Homo sapiens: one gene and its partners. The protein of the gene in region 3 purifies or fractionates together with the protein of the main gene of each other region. This does not show direct contact. Each region holds a gene or a part of one and is shown on either strand. Other genes may lie near its edges.

Region 1 (4,226 bases), on a different chromosome or scaffold from region 3:
GGCATTGTCTGCTTACTCTTTCTTTGCTTGCTTCAGACTCATCAGTTGGCTTTTGCATTCCATATTGAGATTTTGAAAGAAATACTTCAACGAAAAATGAATTGTATTTTTGTTATAGTGATTCTGCTGCATGGATTACAAGCACTCTATCTCCATGCTTGGATAAACTCCATCAAAAGCACATTATCCTCCTACTTCTGTGGCCAGCTGCCTAATTGTATCTGCTGTAACCACATGCTGTTGGAACATGATACCAATGAAGAACAGAAATGATAAATTACTCCCTGCAGGTGATAGTGATAATGATAATTTTTAATTTCCTTCTTCCTCATAAGGTCTAGTCTGATCTTATTTCATTGGTTGCCATCCTATTACATACACACAATGTGTCCTCTTTAAAGAAATATTCATCACACTAAAATACCTGAGAAAGTCATTTTTTATCCCAAATCATTGTTCTTCAAATGAGTGTATATTAAATGAACTGCATTTACCTTTATACATATAAACAAAACATGGCTTAAAACAGATTTTTTCATGATTCAGTTTACAAATGCCATGAGTTTTCTTTTTGTGAAATCCACAAAAAGATGAGTTCTGAAACTATTACATGCTGAGGAATATTTAAGATGTACAACAGAGCTCCATGCTTGTATTTTCCTATGTGCATCAAAGTAATTGTCGAGGATTCTCACAAAATATCAAGAGTGATCAAGCTATCCCAGAAATTCACTATGTATACGTAGTTTCCTTTCATTCTGTTTTCTTCTATCATTGTTTTTGTTTTTTTACTACTTACCACTCATTCTCCCTTCTCTCACTCTAAGGGACTTTTATAACTAAACTTTTAGTTATAAATTTTTCTGACTGTGGTATAATTCAGTGAAATTTTATTTAACTGTGACCTTGCCTTTGCAGATTAACCCAACTCCTACAGATAGATTTTAATGCTTTTTTCCCCCTCAGCAGTTCTCATTGCCCCAACAAGATATATACGTGAGACAAAGGAGAAATTTCTTCTGCAGTCAGCCTTCAGACCTCTCTGATCTTTTACGAGCATATGTCAAGTTGTAGCTCCAGTTAGTTATTTGTTGCCATTGCCTATTAGTCATTATTTCCTATGGTTGTTTATTCTTATATTTGAATGACTTCCACAGAGATAATGTATATTCATTGAAATTAACATTTAAAAGATGTTAAGATAGCCTGTCAAAGTGATGGTAGCAAGGTGGCCAAACTGTAATTGAAAATAGTGGCATGTTTATATTTTCCTGACAAAATAAGTCATTTATTCCTAAATCAGCTGATATTTGGTTATATCATTATTCCTTATTTAATAGCTTTGCAGAAATAAAAACACTAATCATAATTCATTTGGTTTTATATTACTATGTTTCAAATTGAAGGGGTTTTTTTTTTTCTTAATCTCTTTTAATTAAGAGTTAGTAGCATGCAACTGTTGTCCCAGCTACTCAGGAGGCTTAGGCAGAAAGATCCCTTAAGCCCAGGAGTTTGATTTCAGTCTGGGCACCATAGCGGGACTCCATCTCTAAAATTAAATAAAAATTTTTAAAAATAAGAATCACACAGAAAAGAAAAGAAAAAAAGGTAACACCACAAACCCTGTCTCTTTAAGGGGCATTCTAGATCATGTTGGTGTTTGAGGGTAGACACCCATTTTAAAACCAGAAACTCCCTTTGTTTTTTTCAGAGCAGCAATCTTCCACTTTCTCAACTGTACGAATGCTGTCTAGTGAGTAGATAGATTATCTGCACACAGTTTGAATTTTAGGTGAATTCCTTCCTAACTTCTCCTCATGCTTCTGCTTTCTGTTTAATGTGTGCTGTGGAACTGAGTATTACTGTAAACCAAACCTCATTAGAAATGTGACTGTGCTTGAAGACTCAAAGATACTGTGAGGCATTTCACATAGATGCAATTTCAGATATTTGTCATAGATTCTTTCCAGTGCTTACAACTGAAGTTAACTATATCTGTCATTTTTCTTTGTCTTAAAACTTATTTTTTGGTTACCCAGAACTTCCCAGTATTTCTTTCACTATATTATTAAGGGCTGGAAATTTTTAACTGAAATTCATACACAGATTTGGAGATTGATTAATAAGCATGTGTGGCTGGACGTGGTGGCTCACACCTGTAATCCCAGTGCTTTGGGAGGCCCCCCAAAAAATGTGGGGAAAAATAAATCCTAGTAAGCTAATAAGAGCTTTTGTGAAAATTTGGGTTTAAAAGCAGCTTTTGTGACATCTTCAGATACATGAAGAGAAGCATTTCTAATTCTGATTAAAAAAAGACTGGCAATAAATATAACAGTTATAGAAGTATAATTACAGAAAGATGAGAGGCTGTTACATGAGTTTAAAACAATTTTAAAAGGTACACTAAAAATTTTGAAAACAAAAGGATGTTTTAGAACTATGGGTTTTCTGTTCTTGTTGTTCCAGTTTACCTTCTGAAGAACTTCTTTTAAAATGTTTCTAGAGGAAGTCTATTGGCAATGAATTTCTTTACTTTTCCTTGACTTGAAAATGCCTTCATTCATTCTGTCTAGATATAGAATTTTAAAACTTTTTTTTCTCCATCAGTGTCTTTTTCTTTTCCATCTGGACCACCAATGACACGTTAGATCTATAGGTCTCCAAGGTTCTATAACATGCATTTTAATTGCTGTCTTTTTCCCTTCTTCAAATTGGATAATTTCTATCAATCTTCAAATTCACTGATTTTTTCCCTGTCATCTCCATTCTGCTATTCAACCCGGAAGTTTCAGTTATTATAATTTTCAATTGAAAATTTTTCATTTGGTGCTTTTTTATGGTTTCTCTGCTGAGAATTTCTGTCTTTTGATTCATTCCATTGTGTTTTCTGTCACCGTTGGAACATGGTTATAATTGCTGCTTTAAAGTTTTGCTTGATAGTTTGAGCATCTGGATTATCTCAGAGGTGGCTTGTCTTTTCTCCTGAGAGTTGTTCAATTTTCCTGATTCTTTGTATGTTGAGTAATTTGAGATTGCACCTTAGATGTTGTGCATGCTATGTTGTGTAAACTGTGTGTCTTGTTAAAATCTTAAGGATGTTGATGTTTGTTGTTAGCAGTCAAGCCCAGTTAAAATCAGACCATAAGTTCTGTCTTAGTGTCCGAGCAGACAGTTGACCAAGTCTCAGTCACATTCTCTAAGCCTTTGTTATGCTGTTTTGAGGCTGTCTTACACATACCTAGTTTACGGATTAGTCTGAGACTTTTACAGATTTTTCCAATCTCACGTCAGTTCTCTAGGCCTTTACTTGTTGGTTTCGGTTTTTTTTCCATGCATGTTTTATCCAGAGGTTAATCCTGAGACTTGCAGCAGTGATTCAAATTTTAGTTCAATGCTCTAAGCTTTTGCTGTGTGGGTTTGGATCTCACCTGAAAATGCGTAATTTGGGGGTTAGGCTGAGACTTCTGCATTTCCTACATACAGAATTAGATCTTTTCTAGCTCTCTCCTCTCCATATTTGTCCCACATGTTCCATGCTTTTCAGAGTTAAAAATTATTAGTTCCATTCAAGTTCAGTTAGTCAATGCTTTAATAAAGTATACTGACTATGTAATAAAGCTAGCCATATTTGAGACTGAAGACTAAAAATTTTAATTTGGCTAAAATTTATTGAGAACCTACTATATAACATTGTATTGGGTAAGGGGCATAGAAGTGAGTTATACATATGCCTTGCTCTTAAATAAATTGCAGTATAAGGCAAACTGTAATATACTATCGTAACTAACATAACAGAATGTATAATAAACACATTTGCTCATCAAATATTGTATTGTATTGTATCCTATGGGCCAGGTTACTGCTCTGGGCACTGAGAGTATAGTGGTGAACAAGACAGGCATACAGGAATAAATAAGAAAACAGTTGAATTGGTCTGTGAAGGGGTATCATAAGTATCTGGAAATCAACTGATAAAGTTATATTTAGAAATATTCTAATTAACCACGTGGTTTTTATGATAATCTGTGGCTGAGTACTACATTGTTTTATAATTCTATTTGGCAGAATTATTACTAGTATTTTGATTCTCTCTTGGTATCTAAATTGCAGTGAACCTCAGGGTTAAATATTGAGTTTGGTTTGGACCTAATCCATATTAACCCTACCAGATCAATAAAATGTCACATTTTTAACAAAAGTAGCAGAGTACACAAATTAGCTTTACC
Region 2 (4,226 bases), on a different chromosome or scaffold from region 3:
TGGAGCCACCCTGCTCTAGAAGTGACTGCAGAAGGAAGCCACACACTCACCCTCCTGCCCTAGCAAAGTCCATGGGAAAAGTATACCTGCCCCATGGCCCCTCAGATCACCCAGGTGCCCTGACCTCATCCTGCCTGGGCCCCAGCAGCACTCCCTCCCAGGCCCCCTCTGGTGGGCAAGGGGACAACGGCCGGAGTCTCCACCTGATGGTTTGGGCAAGTGTGCCTGGAGTCTCAGGAACTGAGAGCAGCCTCACCAGGGAGGGGCCTTTGTGCTCAGGAAAGAGAACAGGATTTGACTATGTAAATGGACTTGAGCGGGGGTTGGACATCAAAAGACAGGGCTACAGTTCAGTGCCACCCATGTGACTTAGGAGTGCACATTCTGCGCACACCCAGCAAACCCTGCATTTCCTCGAGAGAGGTCAGCCCCGTCACCTACCACTGGGCAGGAAAGCTTTGATCTCACCTCAGCAGCTTGGAAAGCCCTGCTTGACAGGGAGCCTGGGCTCCATCTCGGGGCACAGACAGTTGCAGTGGGAAGACTCCAGCAGGTGGCTGCCTGGTTTGGGTCCAACTCTGCCGTCTTTCAGCCAGGGGCTCTTCTAAGTAGAGCCTATGTTGTCCCCACCTGGTCCCCACTCAAATCCCCCGGCAGAGTTGGCCCTGCTCCGGGGGGAGTCTGTGGGTGCCTCCAGGGGACGTTGGGTACATCGTGGGTGGGAGACATTAAGAGCTGTCAGGCTCATGCCCTCTCCTGCCACGCAGGGGCCAGCACACCTGGCAGGGCCTTATGCTGCAAAGAAGAGATGCCTTGGGAATGGGGTCAGTCAATGCAAGGGTCCATGGGTTGGCCGAGCCGGCATCCCCTTGTGCAATCTGCACAGGCAAAGCTGATCAAAGGCCCAATGTCAGTATATAGGCTGCCCTCTCTGCAGGAGCAGCTGGGGCCCGGGATCAGGCCTAGAGTGGCCGGCTCAGCTGTCTGCCATCCAGCCTGGAGTTGCGCAGGAGGGCGGCGTTCCCAGCCAACCACTCCAGAGAGAGGGGGCTTCCCTCATGGGGGAGGCGAAGGCACGTGGCTGCCTTTGGCTCAGAACCCAGTGCCTGGTCTGGCCACAGCTGACAGTGTGGTTTTGGTTTCCCTCCACATGTGGCCTTCCACAGGCCACCCAGGCACCATGGCAGGGTCTTGCTTACCCCTTCCCAGGGGCAGTGTAGACAGTGCACCGGACAGACCTGGCTTCACCAGCAGAAGGTTGTTACCAACCTGCTCCGCCTAATAACAGCAGGCAACTTCCAAAGAGCTCTGTGCCAGGCACCATTCTAGGCTTATATTGACTCATTTGATGTCCACGAAGACCTTCAAAGGAGGTCTTATTATCTCCACTTTACAGATGGGGAAACCGAGGTGCAGAGCGGTTTATGGAACAGGCCTAGTTTACAGGACTAACAAATAAAAGGGCCAGGATTGCATGCATGATCTTCCTGGAAGCGAGAAACAGAGACCATAAGGTGGCCTGTGTGGGGCGGGGCAGAGCCTGGAGAGGGAACTTCTCGTGATGGAGCCGCAGAGAAGGGACTTGGGAGGGCGAAACTCCTAATCTCAGAGAGTCCAACAGAGTTGGAAAGCTGTGGTGTGAGCGGGTGGCTAAGTCTCCCTTTCGAAGCTTCAGTAAAATAGACACTGTTAATTGTTTTTGTGCAAATGCAATAAGGCACTATTTTTCATATCTGATATTGACAGTCAGTGGGAAAAAATGCTGGCCCAGGTCGTAGCCAGAGCTACTGACATCTGGCTCACACCAGAAAGCCGGCCAAGGGGCTTTATCCAAGGCTGACTGTGCCGGGTTTTCTCTCTGCATGCAAGACCAGGAAGGGGTATGTGCCCTGGAAGGCCTATGTATTTCACTCACTAACTGTATCTTCCATGTGAAGTGACGCAGAGCAAGCATGTTAAAATGGAGTCTCCAGGTTTTCTGTGCCTACGCTCAGCCCCCGTGAAAAGTCCTTTCGGGTCCAGAGATTAGGCTCCAGCTTTGATGCTTTGCATGTTTGTCTACCTGGTAGGTTAAATTCATAAATTCATGAACACAATCAGCACTTCTTGGGTTTTTTTTTTTTTTTTTTTTGACAGAGTCTTGCTCTGTCGCCAAGGCTGGAGTGCAGTGGTGCAATCTTGGTTCACTGCAACCTCCGCCTCCCAGGATTAAGCAATTCTCCTACTTCAGCCCTCCAAGCAGCTGGGATTACAGGTGCCTGCCACCACACCGGGCTAATTTTTTTTTTGTGTTATCCTCAGGTGATCTGGCCTCTTTAGCCTCCCAAAGTGCTGAGATTACAGGCATGAACCACTGCACCCAGCCTTTTTCTTTCTTTCTTTCCTTCTTTCTTTCTTTCTTTCTTTCTTTCTTTCTTTCTTTCTTTCTTTCTTTCTTTCTTTCTTTCTTTCTTTCTTTTTTTTTTTTTGAGACAGAGTCTCGCTCTGTCGCCCAGGCTAAAGTGCCATAGCATGATCTTGGCTCACTGCAACCTCCACCTCCAGGATTCAAGCAATTCTTCTGCCTCAGCCTCCTGAGTAGCTGGGATTACAGGTACCCACCACCATACCTGGCTAATTTTTGTATTTTTAGTAGCGATGGGGTTTCACCATGTTGGCTAGGCTGGTCTCAAACTCCTGACCTCGTGATCCACCTGCCTCGGCCTCCCAAAGTGCTGGGATTACAGGTGTGAGCCACCGCACCTGGCCTTTTTTTAAAATTATTATTATTTTATTTTTTATTTTTGAGACACGGTCTTTCGCTGTTGCCCAGGTTGGAGTGCAGTGGCACAATCACAGCTCACTGCAGCCTTGCTTGATCAAGCGATCCTCCTGCCTCAGTTTCCCGAGTAGCTGGTATTCCAGGTGCAAGTCACCAAGCCTGGCTAATCTTTTTTATGTAGAGACAGGGTTTTGCTATGTTGCCCAGGCTGGCCCCCAACTCCTGGAGTCAGGTGGTTCTCCCACCTTGGCCTCCCGAAGTGCTGGCATTACAAGTGTGAGCCGCTGCACGCAGCCTCACATCAGCACCTCTCAATCAATTGGTGCCATCTCCCTGCACATGAACCCTTGCGTCATGATGACATGTGGTCCTCACAGCCAGGCATTTCTCCCCACCCCAGACATAGAGTGAGAGGAGCTCTGCTCTTCCCTCAATAATTCGTGCCATGCTGTGCACTCCTGAGGAGCAAGGCTCTGTGGTCTGCTGGCTCTGCTGGGCTGCATTTGCAAAATGCTAACCTTCCTGTGTCAACCCAGCATCTTCACAGGTGGAATGAGGATGACAAGGCCAAAGCCCACTCGTTGGGTTATTTTTTCAAATTGAGGTATAATTCATATTCCATACAGTCACCCTTTCTATGGTGTACAATTCTTAATTTTCTTTTTTTCCAAGACAGTCTTGCTCTGTTGCCCAGGCTGGAGTGCAGTGGCATGATCTCGGCGCACTGCAACCTCTGTCTCCCGGGTTGAAGTGATTCTCCTGCCTCAGGCTCCTGAGTAGCTGGGATTACAGGCGCATGCCACCATGCCCGGCTAATTTTTTTTTTTCTTTTTGAGACAGAGTCTCATCTCACCCCTGTTGCCCAGGCTGGAATGCAATGGTGTGTTCTTGGCTCACTGTAACCTCCGCTTCCTGAATTCAAGCAATCCTCTGCCTCAGCTTCCCAAATAGCTGGGATTACAGGTGCCTCCCATCACACCCAGCTAATTTTTGTATTTTTAGTAGAGACGAGGTTTCACCATGTTGGCTAGGCTGGTCCCGAACTCCTGACCTCAGGTGATCTGCCCGCCTAGGCCTCCCAAAGTGCTGGGATTACAGGCGTGAGCCACTGCACCTGGCCCTGGTATACAATTCTTTATCGTGCTTTTAGTGCATTCACAATGTTGTGAAACCAACACCACTGTCTGATTCCAGGACATTCTCAATACCTCGAAAAGAAAAGAAACCCTGTACCCACAGCAGTCACTCCCTATTCCCTCTCCACCCAAACCCTGGCAGCAACTAAATGACTTTTTGTCTATGGATTTATCTTTTCCGGATGTTTCATAACTGGAAACATACAACATGTGGACTTTGGGGCCAGCTTCTTTCACTGAGCACAATGCTGTCAAGCTTCATCTGTGTTGTGGCATGAATCACTCCTCTCCAGGGCTGACTAATGAGCCACTGTATTGAAAGAACCACA
Region 3 (4,226 bases):
CTTTGTAAACTCAATACAGACAAATGCTCTTTTCTGTGACATTATCTCTAAAAAGCTTCATCCTACTAAGAGCAATTTCCATTTTGTTGAGAAGTGCTGTCTTTTAGTCCCTGAGGGCCAAGACAGAGAGCTTGCTGCGTTTGCAGCCAGGATAGCAAGAGTGGTTCCTGGGCAGACAGCTGACTTCAAATTCATTCTGTGACCTTGTGCAGACGATTCAAGTTTGAGAATAAATGGGCAAATGGGCAGATTTTCAAATGAGAAAATCACTCTAGCCCTTCAAGCCCTCCCCAAAGCGTATACTGTTACACTTTGCTCAATATTTGCTAAGCATTCATTTATAAAGTGCTGGGTGTCAAATTATGTCAGATACATTTTTAAAGGCATTAAGCCGTAGTGGAAAATGAGAGATGGTCAGTAAATCTGAGTGCAGAGAATCCCTGCCTAAGCCTCTCAAATTATATCATGAGCAGCTACTCTTCCTTACCCACACTCTTGAAATCTGCTCTCAGTAAAGAATTTACTATCAGTTGCAATGTTGTTTGAATTTAGCTCAGACTTCCAGAAACACTTAGGTCTTAATCCTGTTTTCCCATGTTGGAATGTGTGGTTATATTCTCAGTGAAAGGGATGGCAGTTATCAGTGGCAGGTGATGGGATGAGATCAGATATCCTCCCTAGGAGAGGGACAGAGGACAGAGAGTTCTCTGGGAGCCTGCAATCACTCCATCCCCATTCTACTCTGTCTGCGGCAAAGTCACCCTTTAGGCTGCCATAGCCGGCTTCTCATTTCCCCAGCAAGGCTAAGCATAAAATACAACTCCCTTCCCTACCATTGTGTCCCTGTCCCCCCATCCCCATGAAGGGCAGTGTGTACTCATGGACACAAAAAAATCACTTTCTATAGGTCCAGCTGCAGATGTAGTCCCACAGCTACTTTCCCCCCCAAATTTATAGAATAAAAAGTATACAGTGTGGCAGATCTAGAAACCCAGGAATGTATCTGTGCTGCAGCCCTTAGGCAAACCCAGATGAGTTGCTGGGACTGGTTGGGGTGGTGGTAGCATTTGTCTCAACAATGAGAAAAGAATCATAAATCCCAGGAGGAGAACCCTCAGAAATCTTCCCCAAGACCTGGGCATGAATCTCACTCCATCAGTTTTCCATGCCGGGTCAGTGCTGACACAGCAGGCTCCAAAATTCTCAGCTACTGAAGAGGAAATATTCCCCATCAACCTCTTCCTCCCATTCCCATTGCTTCCTTAGAAGAAGCTTCAGATGTTCTTACTCCAAGGGAGGTGCAGATTTCTTGCTGGTGAATGGAGACACTTGTGCTGGAAGGTCTGAGGCTTGGCTTATAAAGAGATCTCCTATTTTGTTAGGAGGGCTCCCTGTAGTACCCCAGCCTTTAAAGATACAACTTTCAGGTGGCATCAACATGGCTCTGTGCCTGGGGAGGGGTCTTCTTTCCTTTGAGTGGGGTTGTTTGATATGACTTCTGGGTGTGGTCTCATGGCTGGTCTTCTGCTTTTTTTTTCCCTCCAAAGAACAGTAACAGCGATTATGTGGATGTCTTGCCTTGAAGATAAGGCTGCCGGACAAAGCAAGTTGAAGAGATGAGTAACAGTTCTCACTGATGACCCACTTCTGCAGGCATAGGTCCAGAGCACCAAACTCTAGTGGACAATTCAGACTCTCCTGGTTGTGTAACTGAAGATGTTCTGCCCACCAGCACCAGAGGTCACTCTCCACATCCCCGCCTCCCAGACATATACCAGGAGCAATTTCAAAACCCTCTCCAGTTTCACTCTTCTTTCTTGGAATGGGACAGCCTGAACATTTTCCCTTTGACTTGTTAAAGGTACCACCCTACATCATGGTTGACACCCTCCTTTGGACCATGCAGTCAGAGGGGCAGCTTTATACAGAGGAGGGGCACACTTGTCTGTGAGTTTGAAGCCCTGAGTTCCAGTCCTGTGGCTGTGTGACTTTGAACACGTTTCTGCCCATCTCCAGGTCTTAGTTTCTTTGTCTCTGTGGTTGGGTGGGATGATAAACATTGCCCCAGTCTCTCTGTTGAGCCTGCTTGTGTCAGGTGAAGGTGAGGGATCGGGAGTGATGGAGATGCATACAGATCAGCACCTTCTCTGTACCTGCTGGACCCCCATGTGCACCCTTCTCCCTCCAGCCTGGGCTACTCTCCTCCTGGTTCTTTCTAATCTTAAACTTCCTGGTGAGCATTGCCCCAGCCACACTTTCTCCCTGGTTTTGCTTAATTCCACTTATGCATCAGTCATTTCAACAGCATGAATGTGGTTCTGTACAGTGATGTATGTGGAGATTTCTAAAATATTCTATGTGTGATTTCTGTTCCCAACTAGGTTCTAAGTGCCATCAAAGCACGGTTGGGTCTCCCTTGTATCTTCCACAGTGTGTAGAAATTTGTGCTGCCCAGAGCTGTGCCTAGTTCATAGAAACTGACTGGAAGCACATTGCTGAGGGAGGTTTGTTGAATTGGTTTTTAAGGTTTACTGAAATTGATTTGCTGAATTTTTCTGCTAGTTCAAAATGTGAATTAGGACCTGGTCAGTTTGAAATATACCAAATTCTATGCCCTTTCTCTTACCTATCATCAAATTGTAGTAATGTATTTCACCCCACTGGACTTATCTTCAGAGTTTTAAAAGAGAGGAGCTCTCGACTTAGAGGTAATATGAACAGATGAACAGACACTGTGGCTGGAGCCCCAAAGTGTGGAGCATTGTGAGATTTGGGGTCACAGCAATTTATGGCTACTATTCCCTGGGTCTGGTAGGTAGGACAAATGTCCTCTTTTACTTTTCAAAACTGGCTTAGGTATTCATGGACCTTGATTCTTCTATATACATTTTATAATAAATACGTGAAATTGCTTAAAACCTCTTTTTGGAATTTTTAATGAACTTGCAACAAATTTGTAAATAGGAGAGAACTGACGTTCTTGTGATGTTTTCCCATGCATAAACATGCCACATCCATGTTCTTGGGTCATCTTTTTTGCCCTTTCATGGAGTCATAAATTTTCCCAACTGAAGTCTTGTATATTCTGTTAGATTAATTCCTATTTCTAGTTGCTGTAAATGATATCTTATGTTTTATTACATTTCTAATAGGATATGGTGTTGGTGAAATGTTAACCCTCTCATTAGATCTACTAGTTTACCTGTTGATTCTATTGTGTTTTCTATGTAAATGATTTTGTCAGCTATAAATAATAACATTTTATTTTCTCTTTCCTTGCAATACCTATGCTCATTTATTTTTTATGTTTACCCATTGGTTAGGGCCTCCTGTATACATTAAACAGTTCATAGTCATGATAGTGAGTATTCTTACACTGTTCCCAGTATTACAGGGAATGCTTAGAAATTTTCTTTATTTAAACATTATGTTTGTTGTAGCCTTGTTAAAGGCTATTTTATAATTTTTACTAGAAATATTTTGACATTTATTGTGATTTTTTTCTATCTCTAATCTATTGAGATAGTCACATTCCTTTTGTCTTCACTCCATTATAAAGGTAAGTTACCTTAATAAAATTGTTGATATCATTTCATCCTTGCATTGCTTCACTTGATAATATTTTATTATTTTTCATAAACTGTGGAATTTGGTAAGTTAATATTTCATTTAAGATTTTTGCATTAAAACTCATAAACCAAATAGGACTATAATTTACTGAATCATGGTTACACTGTTCATATAAAGCGAAGAAAAGTCTTTTTCCTTTTACCATTTTCTGCAACAACTCTTCAGGTAAAGATTATTTGTTCTGGGCTGGGTGTGGTGGCTCACACCTGTAATCCCAGCACTTTGGGAGGCCGAGGTGGGGGGATCACTTGAGGTCAGGAGCTCAAGATCAGCCTGGCCAACATGGTGAAACCCTGTCTCTACAAAAATACAAAAATGTAGCCAGGTGTGGTGGCACACGCCTATAATCCCAGCTACTTAGGAGGATGAGGTGGGAGAATCGCTTGAACCCGGGAGGTGGAGGTTGCAGTGAGCCAAGATCATGTCAGGGCACTCCAGCCTGGGTGACAGAGTGAGACCCTATCTCAAAAAATATATATATAGTAAATAAATAAATAAAAATAAACTTATCTGTTCCTTGACATTTTTTAGTACAGTACTTTCTTATAAAACTGAGTTTGAGACTCTGGTGGGGTGGGGTGGGGTGGAGTGGGGGG
Region 4 (4,226 bases), on a different chromosome or scaffold from region 3:
GGCACCCATGGCTGTTTACCACATGGGTGTTTGCTTTCTTGCATGCCAGCCAGAACACATCTCCCTGACTTTTTCTTCTGTGAGCAGCCAGAGAAAACTCTGTTTTACAGGGCTCATGTGATTAGTTCAGGCCCACTCAGATAATGTCCATATCTTAACATCAACTGACTTGGGACTTTATGACCTGCTAAATCCCTTCCCAGTAGCATGTAGACTAGTTTTTGATTGAATAATTGGGATAAAGTGTGTGTACTCCAGGGGCTGGGATTTGGGATCATCTTAGAATGCTGCCTGCCACAACTCCCATTCCTGGAACAGTGAAAATCTACAGGCCTACTTGAAGTGGGTGGGTGTGCGAAACAGGTAGAGGGTGATGGGGTAAGTAGGGGTCACAGAGGAAAAACAAGCATATTCATTAACATTTCTCATGTCACCCTGTTATATTTTATTTATAAATTTTCTGAATAACATAGATGAAAAAATTATTAATCCAAGATGGAATTCTGTTTGAGTGGCAACAAGAATTGTGCTTTCTCTGCTCAACAGCAAATGTTAAAAGTTCATCTAATGGTTAAGTTGTAGATGCTTTATTGCACACATCAGAGGTCCTCAACCTTTTTGGCACCAGGGACAATTTTGCCACAGACCGGAGCAGCGGCAGATGGTTTTGGGATGATTCAAGTGCATTACATTTATTGTGTGTTTTATTTTTGTTATTATTACACTGTAATGTATAATGAAATAATTATACAACTCACCATCATTCAGAATCAGTGGGAGCCCTGAACTTGTTTTCCTGCTACTAGATGGTCCCATCTGGGGGTGATGGGAGACAGTGACAGTTCGTCAGGCATTAGATTAACATCAGAGGCACACAGCCTAGATCCCTTGCATGTGCAGTTCACAATAGGGTTTGCACTCCTATGAGAATCTATTGCCTCTACTGATCTGATAGGAGGTGGAGCTCATTGAGAATGCAAACAATGGGGAGCAACTATAAATAAAAATGAGCTTCGCTAGCTCACCCATCACTCGTTTTCTTGCTACGTGGCTGGCAGGGGGATGGATGGGGACCCCTGGCATGAATCTTCCAAAAATGAAAAGTTAATTAACTTTTCACCTATGTATGTCTCATCTGAGCAATTAGATCATAAGCTTTTTATAAATCAATGACATACATATTTCATATACATAAAAAATAAAGAATAAATTATTGATTTTCATTGCAAGCACTAGAGAATGCTTATTAAAAAAATGACCAGCAGAGGTGACAAAAACCACAGACTAATTCAGGAGAATGACTATTTTTGTTTTATGAACAAATATTCACTTATTTGTTCATTCTTTTAATGATGAATATTTGAAAGCATTTATTCTGCACCAGCCACTTTGGTACGTGTTGTAGAACAGTGGTCCCCAACCTTTTTGGCACCAGGGGCTGGTTTTGTGGAAAATGCGGGTTCAGGATGAAACTGTTCCACCTCAGATCATCAGGTATTAGATTCTCATGAGGAGTGTGCCACCTAGATCCTTCACATGTGCAGTTCCCAATAGGGTTCAGGCTCCTGAGACTCTAATGCCATCACTGATCTGACAGGAGGCAGAGCTCAGGCAGTAATGCTTGCTCACCCACTGCTCACCTCCTGCTGTGCGGCCTGGTTCCTAACAGGTACCCAGTCTGCAGCCCCAGGATAGGGGATCCCTGCTGTAGAAGATTGAAATACCTTATTTTGGGGAATTACAGCCTCACAGAGCCAAAAAGACCACATACAAGTAACATACTACAAAGTAGAGGTTGACAAATAACATAAAAGAAAGCAAGATAAGTGTTTAGGTGGTTCAGAAGGGAAAAAGCAGTTAACTTAAGCTGGAATTATCATGTAATACTTGACAGAGGAGGTGGTACTTGAACTGCACCTTAATGAGTGGCTGGGATTTCTACCAGCAGAGACAAAGAGAAAGACCGTTTCAGGAAAAAGGAACAGTATGAACTAAGGGACAGAAGTGGAAACTCCTTGAAGAGCAGTAGATCCAGTTGGACTAGGGCAGCTGTTCTAAAGGTGTGGTCCCCAGACCAGGTGTGTCACCTAAGAACATGCTAGGAATGCACAGTCTCAGGCCCCACCTTGGATCTACCGAATCTCAATCTGCAGGGGTGGAGGTGGAGGTGGCAGCAAGCTGGGTTCTCACAAGCCCATCAGATGATTCTGAAGCATGCTAACATGGTAGCATGGGCTGCACTGAGAGTAATAGCAGGAAGTGAGGCTAGAAAGATAGAATGGGATCAAATAAAGTGGAGAGGCAGATATATATATATAGATATATATAGATATCTATAGATATATATAGATTAGATATCTATAGATATATATATAGATATATATATATTGTTTAATACTCTGCCTCATTTCAAAAATGAAGTGGAAAATGACAATGTAGGAAATTTGATATTTTATTCAGTAGGCAGTGGAACATGCACGGGAGGAAAAGGGCTAGGCTCACGTAACTAATCAAGCGACAGAGCTGAATTCTGATTGACTCCCAAACAAGCAAGGGAGAAAAGCCCAAGGCAGAGGAGAGTGTGGTGAGGGTGTCATATGTCATTTCTATCATTCCTATTCTCTGCCCTTCTTAAACTCATGCCCCTTAGCAGCATAATGTTCAAGGACTCTTTTGGTAAGTCTAGGAGTAGATAGGGAGAACAGTCTCTTGTCTTCCATTAGAGTGAAAAGTTGAGGCTGGGCGTGGTGGCTAACGCCTGTAATCTCAACACTTTGGGAAGCCGAGGCAGGAGGATCACCTGAGGTCAGGAGTTCAAGACAAGCCTGGCCAACATGGCAAAACCCAGTCTTTACTAAATATACAAAAATTAGCCAGGCATCGTGGCAGACACCTATAATCCCAGATACTCAGGAGGCTGAGGCCAGAGAATCACTTGAATCCAGGAGGCGGAGGTTGCAGTGAGCCTAGATCATGCCACTGCACTCCAGCCTGGGGGACAGAGCAAGACTCTGTCTCAAAATAGTAAATAAATAAATGAATTAATTAATTAATAAAAGTTGAAAAGAGCAAACTCTGCCAAAAGAAACTAGTGATGCTATTTAAAACTGTCAGTGGTTTCAATGATTGCCTAATTCTCAGTTCTTATAAAGGGTTAATAGTGATGCTAACATCTGAGATCATATTTCCCTTCAACAAGATATTTATTTGTTAAATAATATTAAATACTTCTTTTTCCCTTTTAGGGCCAAAGATTCTGTTAAACACTTTCATGTTGAATATACTGGATATTCATTTAAATTTGGCTTTAATGAATTCTCATCTTTGAAGGATTTTGTCAAGCATTTTGCAAATCAGCCTTTGATTGGAAGCGAGACAGGTAAGCTATGAGCAGACACTTGACTTATGAAATAATGTTTCGGGATGGAGGAGAGACAAGGCAGATTTCAATTTAAGAATGTCATTGTTGTCATTTATATTTCAGCATTATCTTGAAGAGAAAACAATGTATTTTGTATAAAGTAGATATTTTCTCAGAATGTGTTACTTAATGGATTGATTAAAAGCACACAATTTCTTTAAAATGGGCTCACCATTTTAAAATAACATATACAATACACACAAAAAGAACAAAGGTAAAAATGACTTTTTGATTACTCATAATTTCAGATATAGGCAGTTTGCATATGAGTGAGACCCACAGAAGTAAATTTTGAGCATTTTAAAAACTAAAATTCCCACTTAAATGTTCACAGAGATCACTGAATATTGAAAATATTAACTAGGAAGCACTCTCCTAAGTTATAAAATTCTGTTTCTATTGTCACGGTTTTTTAAATAAGATTTTAAGCTAGACTTAACTATGGCTGGAAAAGTTTGAATTTTCCTGTTTGAATGGTTAGAGAATTAAACCAGAAAAAAATTCATGTGTAAAGAAAAAAAACACAAAAAACAGTCTATCTTGGCACTTGAATTATCTAAGATTGAACATCTTGTTTATTTATATTATTTTAATGAAGTAAAATATCATCCCTGTATTTGTGATATAGAATCACAACACTTTTGTCCTAAATAATGATAAATCTTAGTTAATCAAAGACTAGGAAATTCCAAGAACCTGCGGCACAAGAGGAACTCAAGACTTAATAACACAACCAGTTACCATGAGTTTGTACATACGTGTTTTCTTGGCAAACTTGCCAGTGGGCTTTCTGTTAACTTCAGTG
Region 5 (4,226 bases), on a different chromosome or scaffold from region 3:
GAGTTGTAAGCGTTATTCTGTATATAAGTCCCTTATCAGTACATGATTTAAAATGTCTTTCCCATTCTGTGGGTTGTCATTCCACTTTCTTGATGGTGTGTTTTGAAGCACAAACATTTTGTGAAACTTTAATTCCAATCTATTGTGTTGCTGTGCTTTTGGTGTATCTGAGAAGTCATTGTCTAATCAGAGGTCATAAAGACTTACTCCTGTTCTTCCTTCTAAGTGTTTTATAGTTTTCTTGCTTACAGTTAGGTCTCAGATTTACTTTGAATGAACTTTTGTATGTGATGTGAGATAGGGGTCCACATTCACTCTTTTGCATGTGACTATCCAGTTGTTCCAGCACCATTTGTTGAAAAGACTATGCTTTGCCCATTGAACCGTCTTGGCCCCTTTGTTGAAAATTAATTGGCCATAAATATAAGGGTTTATTTCTGAACTCTCAATTTTATTAAGCTGATTGATGTGTTTATCCTTGTGCCAGTGTAACATAGTTTTGATTATTATACCTTTGTAGAAGTTCTGAAATCAGGAAGTATGAGTCTTCCAAATTTGTTCTTTTTTCCAAGATTGTTTTGGCTATTTTGGGTAGGTCCCCTGCTGTGCAGAAGAGTTAAACATGGCAAGCATAAATGTTTATGCTTAGAAAGGCCTTCCTGTAAGGTTGACTCTTGGGTGGCCTCTAGAAACCTAGGTTTCTGATAACAGTGGCTCACTATGCCTGAACTGTTAATACAAACAATATGCTTTATGCAGAACACCTGTTCTCCTGCTGGTAGTCTGACATTTTGGTACAGGCTAGGCAGAGTGTGCCTACATTCTGTGCAGACGGTGCCCCAATAAAAATCCTGGGCACTGAGTTTCTAATGAACTTTTTTATGAAACGCTGTTGAGTTTTGTCAAATTTTGTTCTTTGCATCTATTCAGATGATCGTGTGTTTTGTATTCTACTAATATGGTGTATGACATTGACTTTCATATGTTGAACCAATCTTGCATTCCTGGAATTAATCCCACTTAGTCATGGTGTTTAATACTTTGCTAGTACTTCATTGAGAATTTTTGTGTCTATGTTTGTGAGATATTGGTTAGTAGTTTTCTTTTCTTGTGATGTCTTTGGTTTTGGTGCCAGGGTAATACTAGCCTCATACAATATGTTGGGAAATGGTTCCTCTCAGTTTTTTGCAAGAGTTTGTGAAAGGCTGGTATTAATTCCTCTTTGTTTGATAAAATTCACTAGATTATCTTTTAAAGATGTTTAAAATGAAATATCTTTTACATTTAGCCACTTACTTTTCTCCCTGTTATTTTGTGTAGATCTGTATTTCCATTTGTATCACGTTCCTTTTGTATGCAGAGCTTACTTATTCTATTTATTTAAGAGATAGGGTCTCACTCTGTCATACAGGCTGGAGTGCAGTGTGCAGTCACCACTCACTGCAGCCTCAAACTCCTGGGCTTAAGCAATCCTCCCACCTCAGCCTGCCAAGTAGTTGGGAGTACAGGTGTGCCACTGCACTCAGCTAACTAAAAAAGATTTTTTTTAGATACAGGCTAGCTATGTTGCCAACACACCTAGCTAATTTTAATTTTTTTTTTTTTTTTTTTTTTTTTTTTAAGATACAGGCTATGTTGCTCAGGCTGGTGTTGAAGTGGCCTCAAGCAATCCTCCTGCCTTAGCCTCTCAAATAGCTGGAGCAGCCACTGTCTGTAAGCATCTGAAGAGCTTACTCTAATATTTCTCATAATGCAGATTTGTTTGTGATGAATTCCCTCAGCTTTCATTTGTCTGAAAAGGTTTTCAGCATTTTTAGGATATCATAGCATTGACTTGCCGTTTCTGACAAAATGTTGCTATAATTCTTAACTTTGTTCCTCAGTATGTGATGTGTCCTTTTGTGCATAATGCTTTTAAGATTTTCTCTTCTGGGGCCTGGTGTGGTGGCTCATGCCTGTAATCCCAGCACTTTGGGAGGCCAAGGTAGGTGTATCACTTGAGGTCAGGAGTTCGAGACCAGCCCGGCCAACCTGGTGAAACCCTGTCTCTACTAAAAATACAAAAAAAGGTTGGACATGGTGGTGTGTGTCTGTAATCCCAGCTACTCAGGAGCCTGAGGCAGGAGAATCGCTTGAACCTGGGAGTTGCAGGTTGCAGTGAGCCGAGATTGAGCCACTGCACGCCAAGCCTGGGTGACAGAGCAAGGGTCTCAAAAAAAAATTTTTTTTTCTCTTCTTCATTCTTTTTCAGTAATTTGATCATGATCTGCCTTGGCGTGACTTTCTTTAGGTTTAGGTTTATTCTCCCTCTGGTTCATTGACTTTCTTGGATTTGTGGGTTCATAGTTTCATCGAATTTGGGAAAATTTTCACCTATTATTTCTTTACATAAAGTTTCTGTTATCCCCCTTTCTCCTTTCCTTCTGGACTCCACGTGCACATACACTAGACTGGTATATTTCTACAGAGAACTGATTCTTTTTCATTTTTTTCATTTCATTTTGAATTATTTATATTGCTATGTTTTCATGTCTATTGATCCTTTCTTCTAGTGTCTACCCTGCTATTAGTGGATTTTTCATTTCATATATTTTATTTTTCCTCTTTATAAATTCCATTCAGGTTATTTTTTGTATCTTTCATTCCACTCTGCATCATGTTCATGTTTTCCTTTTCATCTTTGAGTGTATTTGTAATAGCCATTTTAAGATTTTTGCTTCTTTCCTGAACTGTTATTTCTGGGCCCTTTCCTATTGACTAATTTTTCTCCTGGTTATGGGTCACACTTTCCTGCTTCTTTGTATGTCCAGCAAAATTTTATTGGATGCTTGATATTTTGAATTTTGCACAGGTAAGTGTTGGATTGTTTTCTTTAGAGTGTTTTGCCTTTTCAGGAACTTTTGGATGGTTGATCAAGTAGCCTTTGTTCTAGAATTAATTTAGCCGTACTTCTAATGTGTGGTCATTCTAGGTTCCCTACTAAATGCCCCTTATAGTTGATAATGCCTCTACACTCTAGCTAGAGGGAATGTGAATTCTTTCTCATCATGAGCTCAAGGAAATGTTCATCCTACAGATCCCTACTATTCTTTCATGGTAAGTTATTCTTGCCTGGCCTCATGGGGTTTCATGTTGTATATATTCAGATTATTCAACCAAAGAATCAAGGAGGGGACTTCTATGCAAGTTATTGTTTTGTTTTTATTTGCATACCTCTGTTCCTTCCAGGACTCTGCCCTGCAAATTCTAGCTGCTTTTGCCTCCTTGAGCCATGGTCTCTGGCTCAACTCAGTGGGATCATTAGACTCATGTCTTACAGCCTGGTGACACTTCCATGCAATAAGCCGGAGTGGTCTGTTCAGTGACCACAGTACTGCAACACCTGCCAACCAGTGTCTGAAAATAGTGGCTCATGTATTTTGTCCAGTTTCTAGTTGCTTACAGTGGGAGGGTATCCTGGACTGTATTTCCCCTGCATGGTCAGCAGCGCACCTCCATTGAGTCTGCATGTGTTTAATCTGATGGCTCTGTTGGCTGGCGTCTGTTATAGGTTATAAGTATAGCTGCCTGTGCTTCCACCACGAGCACCTGGGGTGTCTTGTGGCATGATTGAGCTAGCTCTGAAGCTGACTCCCTCTTCTCACTCCCTGCCTTTTCTCCCTTACCTTTTGCAGAAAAGGTGTGAGCGGTACTGGGCCCAGGAGCAGGAGCCACTGCAGACTGGGCTTTTCTGCATCACTCTGGTGAGCTGTGGGAGTTTTCAAGGAAGATTCCCAGGGTGGAAAGGCTTTGGGTTGGGCCTAAAAGGTTGAATGATTTAACCCACAGTCCACTCATACTGCAGGAAACCCTCTGGTGTTAGCCTGCAAATAGTTAGAACTTACTATAGGGATAGCCTTTGCATTTTTATTTTGGCTACAATCAGTTAATCTCTGTCATGTAAATGTGCCTGGTTAGGTTGTTGAAATTCTTACTTCTCTTACCATTTCAAAAGAGCTTGGGGAACTCTCTCAAGTCATACATACAGTTAGTACTTAATAAATGCAATAAAAGTTTCATTTTAGAACAAAAGACATCTCTTTTCATTGCAAAAGGGCTTGTGTTTTTATAATAGTTCCTCTTTTGCTCCTGTGTCAAATGTTTCCTTAATGAAAGCTTTGGGGAAAGTTTGGGCTATATGAATTTTTAAAATGTTTTCTGTATTTGATTTTTTAATCAGGAATGCT
Region 6 (4,226 bases), on a different chromosome or scaffold from region 3:
ACATGAGTCACTCTTACTGAAGTACAAGAGTCCTGCATCAGAAAGGCAGATTTGCCAAGAGCAGAATTTCAGTAATCACATGTGAACATGGCATTTAGAGTTGAGGTGCTGCTGTGCAGAGTACTTGGAGCTTTTAATGACTCTGACTTTTTATTATTATGACAAGTTTGATTAGCAGACACAAAAATGAGTGAAACAAGTTCCCTTGAATTACCACCCAGGTTAAGTAATAAAAGATTAAATGTAATATTGAAGTTTTCTGGGTACTCTTCCAGATTGAATCTCCCTTCTAAGAGGTAACCAGTGTGGTAAATTTGCTGTTATTATTTCTATGCATTTTCTCTTGAGTTTACTGTATATATTACATATTTAATTCATATATAGTATTGTCTTAAGTAAATAAAATATTAGCCTAAATTGTCAAATATTGTTTGCATTCTTGGAAATATTTTTTTATGATTAATTCAAGTTGCTTCGGGTACAGTTACTTTATTCATATTCATTGCAATATAGTGTTCTATAAATACTATAAGTATATACATATATTATATTTTTAAATATATTATTATTATATATTTAGTAGGTATGGTAAAAATATATAGTATATTTTATATATAGTACATATATTTCATATATAATATAGTGCATATATATTATAGTATATATACAGTATTAAAATATGTATTATATTTTATGTTTTTCTCTCTCATTTATAGGTATTTTTCTTACTATAACAGACTGTAGCAATTTTTTGGCACATGTCTCACTGTGCACACATACTTTTTAGATATTTGCCTAGAAGTGAAATTGCTGATGACGTGTAATGTGTTTCTTCTCTTTTTTGCCCCCAAACCCATAACAGTACCCTGTAGTATTTGTAATTTGCAAAATTACATAATTTGTAATTATGTTTAGCCAGAATTAAAGACCATTTTTTAAGACAAACTGTATAATCTCTTATACTTGTGAAAGCCCCCATGAATATTTAATAATGTCACATTTTGTAATTTTGCCAGTTGAATGGTTTTAATTTGTCTTTTCTGATTATTAGTGTGGTGAGCATGTTTTCATAGAACATTCAGGTTTTTTTTTTTTGCTGTGAATTGCTTAAACATAATTTTTACCCATTTCTCTAGTGAGACATTTATCTTTTTTCTTATAGATTATACAAATTCTTTATATATCCTGGATTCTATTTTTTTTTTTTTTTTGGTATTGCATTGGAAATATATTTTCCTAGGCTGTTTTATCTTTTTTCTTCTTAATGAAGGAAATAATTTTGTATCGTTTTTTCAAATATGATATACACTGTGCTTTGTTAAAATTGATTACCTTTTATTACATTTTTCCTTTTTCCATCTTGTTTTGGGAAACCAATCTTTATGGTGAAGTCATAAAATACTTCTTATATTTTTTCTGAAAATTTTTCACTTGTGCTTTTTTTTTTTTTTTTTTTTTTTTTTTTTTTTTTTGAGATAGGGTCTCACTGTCTCACCCAGGCTGGAGTGCAGTGGCGCGATCTCGGCTCACTGCAACCTCCGCCTCCTAGGTTCAAGCAATTCTCCTGGCTCAGCCTCCCGAGTAACTGGGACTACAGATGCACACCACCACACCCAGATAATTTTTGTATTTTTAGTAGAGATAGGGTTTCACCTTATTGGCCAGGCTGGACTCAAACTCCTGACCTCAGGTGATCCACCCACCTCAACCTCCCAAAGTGCTGGGATTACAGGCATGAGCCACCACTCCCCGCCTCAGTTTTGCTTTTTACATTCAGGTCTTTTGATCTACCTGGAATTGATTTTTTGTTTTATGTGCTGAAAAATATGACTGCCACTCATAAGTGTTCCATATGTGGGTGGGCTAGCACTGCCATTTGTTTATAAGGCTGGTTGGCATCTGTCCTCATGTGAGACACTTGTTTCTGGTTATTGTCTGTCAGGTTGGTTTGTGGATGGTCATCTCACTGAATCATCACAATGTTAATGAACCAAAGTGAAAAGCATTAATTAAGACTTCAAACAAAATCGGATTATGTTTAGCCAGAATTAAAGACCATTTTTTTAAGACAAACTGTATAATCTCTTTAAATCGTATGTGAATTGCTCATGTTCAATGAGTCCTTAGCTATGCATAGCGTCATTTACTTAGTTTTAGTTCTTTATAGAGTATATTAATGAATCCTGTTTACTAAGGATGAACTTTCCTTGTGTATAGGACTATAGCAAAGGTAAACCTTAGAAATGGACTTCAGTACTTGGAAGGAAGAAGCATGACTCACTGTACGACTGTTGCATGACTGACCATTTGCCAGGTGAATTAGAACCTGGAGACAGAACATTTCAGCACAACAGCCAACAGCTTCTGATCAATGTGTAACCCTTGAATAAGCACTCAAAAATATTAATCCAAGCACAAAATGTTTCGAAAGGAAATTATTCCATCATATTGTATATATTATATTAAATTTTACCCTGGAATGAGGAACTAGGAAGATTGTAAAACAACTTCACTTACTTATACGCAGTCATAGAAAGTATTCTGTAAGAATTTACTTTTTATTCTCCAATTAAAAACCTCATACTAAACAAGCATGCTTTGTGCTAAACAAGTATTGGATTATTTAAATATTGGGTATTAATTTAAGAGAGTGTTAAAAAATGGCCTGGTTTAGCCAATGACAGATGCATAAATTCATAAGCTTACCTAAAATTAATCTCTATACCAAATATAAATTATATTCATACCAATAATTTTGATTTCTTCCAGTTAATGGTTTTTGTCACAATTCTGATAAAGGAAAGAAATTATTTTGGAAAATGAACAAATTTATTGTGTGCTTTTATTCATTCTTTTTGGCCCTTTTTTATATGACTTCAAGTTTGAGTTCTTCAGCACTCTGCCTTTCATAGACTCCAGGCTACTTTCCTAAGTTCTTTCCCTTTCCCCACCTGTCTCCTAAGTATAGTCTGCCTTACAATACAAGGTACACTTTACCCTCCCTCAACACACCACTCTGTTTCCAACTCATTGCCTTCCCCTTCTTGTCTTCTCAAAATACCTTTCTTCTTTTCTCTCTGTAGAGAATATGTTCATCCTTCAAGATATAACTTTATTGTTATGACCCTTCTGAATCATATTCCTATAGAAAGATCATCTCTCTCTCATTCGTGTTTGAATAAGACTGAGCACTTACCTGTATTACCCTTTAGTACAGCATTATTTGTGTCAATCTTAATAATCAGACTGTGACTAACTAGGACAAAGATGACAACAATATATCACTGTATTTATCTAAACTTGTACTGTCTAATACTCTAACCACTAGCTACATGTGCCTATTGACACTGAAAATGTGCTAGTGCAACAAAGGAACTGATTTTTAAATTAAATTTATTTTAATTTAGAGTTTCAGTTTAGATAGCCAATTTTATGCAATGAATATGTGGCTGGTGGCTACTGTCTTGGATAGAGCAGATACAGACGGTTTCCATCATCAGAGAAAGTTCTATTGGACAGTGTTGGGAAGAATAGACTCACAGTAAAATTAGAAGGAGATGAATTTATGAATAAAATAGTTTTACAGGGCATGGTAATAACATCAATGCTTTAATTTTCAGTGGATAGCTGCCACAGAGTTGTATTATACTAATGATTGTGTTGGTAAGGATAATTTTGCAACTTTGCAGATTTCAGCATGTCCTGCAAAGACAGATAATCTCAGCCTGATCAAGAAGGTAATGACAATGTGAACCATCAAAGGAACTAAAAGAAGAGTTAAAGCTATTTTTGGTGAATTCTTTAAATATTCAACCACAACTTCTTTTCCTGAGATGGAAGTGTAGTAATCATCATCCTTTAAGACACTGGGCTATAAAAAATGCGATTGAGCCAGTGGTCATAATTCCTTCCCTTAATGTTTTGATTCCTTCATGTGAGAAGATATATTCATGTCCTCTTTTTCAAATATTGGATTCAATTTGACATTAATTTCCATTAGGGTGACTATTATTATTATAGTTATTATTTAGAGATAGGGTTTCATTCTGTCACCCAGGCTGAAATGCAGTAGCACAATCATAGCTCACTGCAACCTTGAACTCCGGGGCTCAAGTGATCTTCCTGCCTCAGCCTCCCAAAGCTCGGGCATTACAAGTGTGAATCACTCTGCCCAGCCTAGGATGGCATATATATATATGGAGAGAGAGAGAGAGAGAGAGAAAGAA
Region 7 (4,876 bases), on a different chromosome or scaffold from region 3:
GCTGGGAGTCAGGTACTTGATCTAGCAGGGGGCACTAGGTTAACCCCTAGGCACAGCTGTTGTCAATCACATCTGCTCAGTCAATAAAACAAGGACCAGTGAACCCAGTCCAGACTCTGACGGAGGAAGAGAGAGCCTTTGTAGATGCCTGAGAGATATTGGGTGGAGCCACAGAGTGTTTTGTGAAGATCAGATGAGATGAGGGTTTGTAAAGGAGCTGGCACAGTGCCTGGCACACAGTAGGACCACAATAAATGGTAACATGGTTGGAATTTTCACCCTACCACTAACCTGCTGTGTGGTTCAGAGCTTCAGTTTCCTCATCCATAAAACATAAGTAATAATGATACCCACTTCCCAGATTAACTTACTAAAAGGGAACAGCATAAAGCCCAGCTCTCACTAAAGATGGGTCTGTGACAGGTCTCTGCCTCCCTTCTCACAAGGCTCCACTTACTTGCCCAGCAATAGGTTTATTGCAGGAGCCACAGAGGCCTTTGGCCTGGGTGGGAACACCCCGGCGGCTGAGGTCGGACTGCAGCAGCCCCAGCATGGTGTCTAGGCTGCCCTTGCCAGTCGGCTCTGGTGGGGATGGGGAGCCCTCATTTGTGGAGCTCACCACCGGTGGCTGAGTTGGCCCAGAGGCTGGAAGCTGCAGCGGGGAGGACATGAGAATTGAGTCAGCAAAGCAGCAGATGTGGAATTGTCTAGAAGGGGTTGGGGAGCCACAAATGGACACTGGCCCACTGCCCAACTCACATGGTTTTGAACGCGGAAGTCAGAGAGTGAGGCCATCAGTCTATCCAGCTCCAGAGTGGCTGAGGTGGCAGAAGCCTTTGGGAGGCCAGGAGACGGGCTGGAAGGGCTGTGAAGAACATGCTTGTGTCATCTCAGAGCCTCCCAGAGCAACGCTCCCTCTAGTGACTCAGATATCCAGGACTCATCTCTCAGCCCTGACAACGACGCCAAACTCACAGGCTGGGTCTTTTCTTATCTTCAGACTGGTCCTCCTTCTGCTCTCCTGAAGCCACCTTGCTAGATGGGAACTGAGACATGATTTCATCTGGAGAGAGGAGAGGAGGACGCTACATATAGGGCCATGCTCAACGCACCCTCACACTTGAGGCTTTAGGTCCCTTTAACTGCTACTCTGGGAAGTGTATTCCTCTTAGTCTCTGCCCCACCCTTCCCTCCCCTGCCCCTATCGCATCAAGGCCTCTCTCAGTCACCCTGGTACCTGTGATGTTGAACTGAGTGGCATTAAGTTCCTGAAGCAACCGATCTAGCTCACAGAGCCCGGTACCCAAGACACCGCTGGAAGAGGAGAATGGAGGGGCCGCCGGGGCTGCAGGCTTTGGGGACCGAGGCTTGCATACCGTGCTGGGAAGCAGAGTGGGAGCCTGGGTTCAGGGGTGGGGAATCCAAGCCTCCTCACCTGAGACTCAGTTGGCCCCCATGCCCTGGTTTCCAGGCCCCTCACCTGTACAGGTGGTCCTTGTCCCCCGAGGCTCCTGAAGACTCCCCAGACCCTGTCTACAGAGCGGAGACGCACAGGTGGGATGACAGGCCTGCACTCTGCCCCACTGAGGCTGAGATCCCCATAGACCAGGCCGAGCCTGGCCCTAGTGGCTGCCCCAGTCCCCAACATCCGATCTCACCTGTGGCTGGTGGCCATAGGATGGGGGAGGGGTGAGAGGCTCCGCAGGGCGCTCTTTGGGAGCCCCTGACCTTGGCATGTGCGAGGTGGTAGTCTCCAGGTCAGAGAGCAGGGCATCTGCAGGAAGAGGCCATCAGGGAGAGAGACAAGGGTCACGGTTAGATCAGAAGATAAGGTTCCCAGTGGGCAGTACTGGAGAAGGACAGAAGCCAGTATTAAGAGAAGAGGTCACAGGGCCAGAGCCAGGCAGAGCACTGCTCGAAGGGTAGCAAGGAATATTTATGACCAGAATATCCCAGTTGCTCACGCTTGGAGCCAAGCACAAACCCAGCCTCCTGATTATTTTATTCTCCCCATCTTCTCTGATGCAGTCAAAATGGGCTCTTCACCCAAGCCAAATTTGGCTCCCCTCCAAATTGCTCCATTGGCCCAGTGCCTGGCCCTCAGCTTTCTGATTGGACGCTCTCTCTTCCATGCTGGTTAACTCCTCCCTCTACCTACACAGGCCCCGCCCAGCCTGGCCACTCCCAGGCCCCTGAGTCCCGCCCTGGGCTCCTCACTGGCGCTTCGCTGGGACCTGCCTTCTGATTGGCTGTTTATCTGCGGTACAGCGTCAGTTACCCCTACCGAGCAGCGCCCTCTACCGCCAGGGGCCGGAAGCCCCTCTCTCCCGTGGAGCGCACAGCCTTCCAGCCCCAGGCTTCGCAGGGAGGACGAGATACCTGGGTCCCCCTTCCGGACAAGACACCTCTCTCCATCCCTGCATCCCCAGATCCGGGTCTTTTGAGCCCTTTCACTTCCAGAACCCAGAAGTCCTGCCCTCAGTCTTCGTCTCTGAGCACCCGCGTGAAACCCTGAAGCCTTCGCGGGCGCCTAGGCACTCCTGAGTTACTATTCTCTTCCTTGCCTCAAGGACCTGACCCTCACTGTGCTCAGGAGCCCTTAACTCCTCCTCTCCCAAAACTCTGGTGCAGGCAGGCCCGCTTTTTTTCTCCAAAACTTGATGCCAGACTTTCCCGTGCCCTCTACTTTCCCGGTCCCCGGGCCGAGGCCCCTTTAACCCCTCCCTCCCCAGAGCCCCGCGCCCGGGCGCCCGCGGGCGCCGCACCTCCCGTTCCATCTGCCGCAGCCTGGGATGGAGGAGCACAGCGAGGGAAGAAGGGAGGGAGCGGCCGGCCCAGGAAAGGCAGGAAGGGAGAGGCAGGAAGGGGGACGTGGAGTTGGAAAGGAGGCGCGGGCAGAGGCGAAAAGCAGAAGTAAGAAGACAGGGATGGGGAGATGCGGGAGAGCGACGGCGGGGAGGCAGCTCTGGGCAGCGGTGAGGGGCCACGGACCCGGGGATCCGGCCCCACTCACCCAGGTCCTCCATGGCGGGGCGCGGGCCGGTGGCGCGGGGCGAACAGGGCGGGGGCCGTGTCCGGTGGGGGCGGGGGGCGGGGGACGTCCGGGAGCTGGAAGCCCGGCCGTGACCATGTAAGGAAGCCGGGACCCGCTGAGATGGGGATGGGGGGGCGATGAACGGGGGAACCCGAGGTGGGGGCGTGGAAAGGAGGGAGCGCCCCGGCCCACCCGAGCCCAGCCCGCCGGCCTGCCGCGGAGGCGGCCACACCCCAGCCTTGGCCTCAGCTGCAGGGAGCCCCAGGAGGCCAGAGCCAGAGAGAAGTGGCTTCTCCAGACCAAGCCCCAGAGCCGCTCCCTAGGGAGACTTACAGACACGGACTGAGGCCCCCAAACAGACACCGCTCAAAGCTAGCGCCTGAGTCCTAGACAAGAGCCTCCCTCCCACCCATGCCATTCCTGGGAGACTTGTCCCAGACGGAATTTTTGGATTGGTAGCAGGAGTGATATTCTAAGGCTCAATTAGACCTCAGGTTCGGAGACCCTCCCATCGGAGACCCTGACAGATAAATAGAGGCCCCAAGAGGCATACATACCAGACACAAAGAAATCTGAGGGACGGGGACAGACACAGTGAACCCACCCACAGACTCTACACTAGGACCTTCCCTCCAAGACTTGGTCATGGACACACGTAAACTCGAACCCGGGCGCAAGCCCCTTGCAAATTCGGGGAAAACACTCCCAGGCAACCAACCCCCAGCCAGCCTGCAAGACAAAGCCCTTCCTCAGCACTGAGGTGGCCCAGGCCTGCTCTGAAACAGCCCTTTCCCAAGTTACTGATGAACTCAGAGCAGAAAGCAAGACACAGTCTCCAGCCACAAAGTGGCAAGGCCTTCCCTGGACTGAGACCCTGAGAAACGAGGTGGAAACGAGAGGCCATAGAGGTAGTTATGGACAGACAACTGTGCTGCAGCCACTCTTCTGGACAGATCTGAGCACTGGAATGTGAGTATCAACCCAGCAGCAAATCGGAACAACCTGGGGAGCTTTTTAAAAATGCGAGACAGGCATGGTGGCTCACACCTATAATCCTAGCACTTTGGGAGGTCAAGGCGGGCAGGTCACTTGAGGTCAGGAGTTCGAGACCAGCCTGGCCAACATGACAAAACCCCATCTCTACTAAAAACACAAAATTAGCTGTGCGTGGTGGTGGGAGCCTGTAATTCCAGCTACTTGGGAGGCTGAGACAGGAGAATTGCTTGAAACCTGGAGGCAGAGGCTGCAGTGAGCTGAGATTGTGCCACTGAACTCCTGAGCAACAGAGGAGACCCTGTGTCAAGAATAAAAAAGAAAAAGAAGAAAAAATGGGCAAACGACCTGAATAGACAGTTCAAAGAAGTTATATAAATAGCCAATGATTACATGAAAAGATCCTCAACATCATTAGTCCCCAGAGAAATGCAAATCAAAACTACAATGAGATGCCACATCATACCTATTAGGATGGCAATAACAAAAAAGACAGGTAATTAGGCAAGGAGCAGTGGCTCACACCTGTAATCCTAACACTTTGGAAGGCCGAGGTGGGTGGATCCCCTGAGGTCAGGAGTTCGAGACCAGCCTGGCTAACATGGTGAAAACAGTCTCTACTAAAAACACACAAAAAAATTAGCCAGACATGGTGGTGGGCACCTGTAGTCCCAGCTACTTGGGAGGCTGAGGCGGAAGAATCCCTTGAACCTGGCAGGTGGAGGCTGCAGTGAGCTGAGATCGTGCCACTGCACTCCAGCCTGAGCAACAGAGCGAGACTCCATCTCAAATAATAATGATAATATTTTAAAGGCCAGGCTCAGTGGTTCACGCCTGTAATCCCAACAC

Evidence for each region.
Region 1: the proteins of SH2D1B (region 3) and PRMT3 purify together in Homo sapiens (affinity purification with mass spectrometry; one large-scale study listed by BioGRID and IntAct). This does not show direct contact.
Region 2: the proteins of SH2D1B (region 3) and INPP5D purify together in Homo sapiens (pull-down; one study listed by IntAct). This does not show direct contact.
Region 4: the proteins of SH2D1B (region 3) and DAPP1 purify together in Homo sapiens (pull-down; one study listed by IntAct). This does not show direct contact.
Region 5: the proteins of SH2D1B (region 3) and PTPN18 purify together in Homo sapiens (pull-down; one study listed by IntAct). This does not show direct contact.
Region 6: the proteins of SH2D1B (region 3) and ROBO1 purify together in Homo sapiens (affinity purification with mass spectrometry; one large-scale study listed by BioGRID and IntAct). This does not show direct contact.
Region 7: the proteins of SH2D1B (region 3) and TGFB1I1 purify together in Homo sapiens (pull-down; one study listed by IntAct). This does not show direct contact.

Annotation. Positions count from the first base shown.
Region 1 is NC_000011.10:20,488,361-20,492,586, forward strand, and holds part of PRMT3 (protein arginine N-methyltransferase 3), read left to right. Parts: intron 1-4,226. UniProt on the Homo sapiens protein: Protein-arginine N-methyltransferase that catalyzes both the monomethylation and asymmetric dimethylation of the guanidino nitrogens of arginine residues in target proteins, and therefore falls into the group of type I methyltransferases.
Region 2 is NC_000002.12:233,063,197-233,067,422, forward strand, and holds part of INPP5D (phosphatidylinositol 3,4,5-trisphosphate 5-phosphatase 1), read left to right. Parts: intron 1-4,226. UniProt on the Homo sapiens protein: Phosphatidylinositol (PtdIns) phosphatase that specifically hydrolyzes the 5-phosphate of phosphatidylinositol-3,4,5-trisphosphate (PtdIns(3,4,5)P3) to produce PtdIns(3,4)P2, thereby negatively regulating the PI3K (phosphoinositide 3-kinase) pathways.
Region 3 is NC_000001.11:162,394,637-162,398,862, reverse strand, and holds the end of SH2D1B (SH2 domain-containing protein 1B), read left to right. Parts: intron 1-1,547; coding exon 1,548-1,583; 3' UTR 1,584-3,595; downstream 3,596-4,226. UniProt on the Homo sapiens protein: Cytoplasmic adapter regulating receptors of the signaling lymphocytic activation molecule (SLAM) family such as CD84, SLAMF1, LY9 and CD244. In SLAM signaling seems to cooperate with SH2D1A/SAP.
Region 4 is NC_000004.12:99,837,044-99,841,269, forward strand, and holds part of DAPP1 (dual adapter for phosphotyrosine and 3-phosphotyrosine and 3-phosphoinositide), read left to right. Parts: intron 1-3,245; coding exon 3,246-3,379; intron 3,380-4,226. UniProt on the Homo sapiens protein: May act as a B-cell-associated adapter that regulates B-cell antigen receptor (BCR)-signaling downstream of PI3K.
Region 5 is NC_000002.12:130,365,459-130,369,684, forward strand, and holds part of PTPN18 (tyrosine-protein phosphatase non-receptor type 18), read left to right. Parts: intron 1-3,674; coding exon 3,675-3,743; intron 3,744-4,226. UniProt on the Homo sapiens protein: Differentially dephosphorylate autophosphorylated tyrosine kinases which are known to be overexpressed in tumor tissues.
Region 6 is NC_000003.12:79,757,483-79,761,708, reverse strand, and holds part of ROBO1 (roundabout homolog 1 isoform a precursor), read left to right. Parts: intron 1-4,226. UniProt on the Homo sapiens protein: Receptor for SLIT1 and SLIT2 that mediates cellular responses to molecular guidance cues in cellular migration, including axonal navigation at the ventral midline of the neural tube and projection of axons to different regions during neuronal development.
Region 7 is NC_000016.10:31,470,339-31,475,214, reverse strand, and holds the start of TGFB1I1 (transforming growth factor beta-1-induced transcript 1 protein), read right to left. Parts: upstream 3,064-4,876; 5' UTR 3,027-3,063; coding exon 3,014-3,026; intron 3,008-3,013; exon of another isoform or gene 2,992-3,007; intron 2,813-2,991; exon of another isoform or gene 2,766-2,812; intron 2,011-2,765; exon of another isoform or gene 1,965-2,010; intron 1,775-1,964; coding exon 1,659-1,774; intron 1,534-1,658; coding exon 1,481-1,533; intron 1,381-1,480; coding exon 1,238-1,380; intron 1,064-1,237; coding exon 976-1,063; intron 866-975; coding exon 760-865; intron 653-759; coding exon 458-652; intron 1-457. UniProt on the Homo sapiens protein: Functions as a molecular adapter coordinating multiple protein-protein interactions at the focal adhesion complex and in the nucleus. Links various intracellular signaling modules to plasma membrane receptors and regulates the Wnt and TGFB signaling pathways.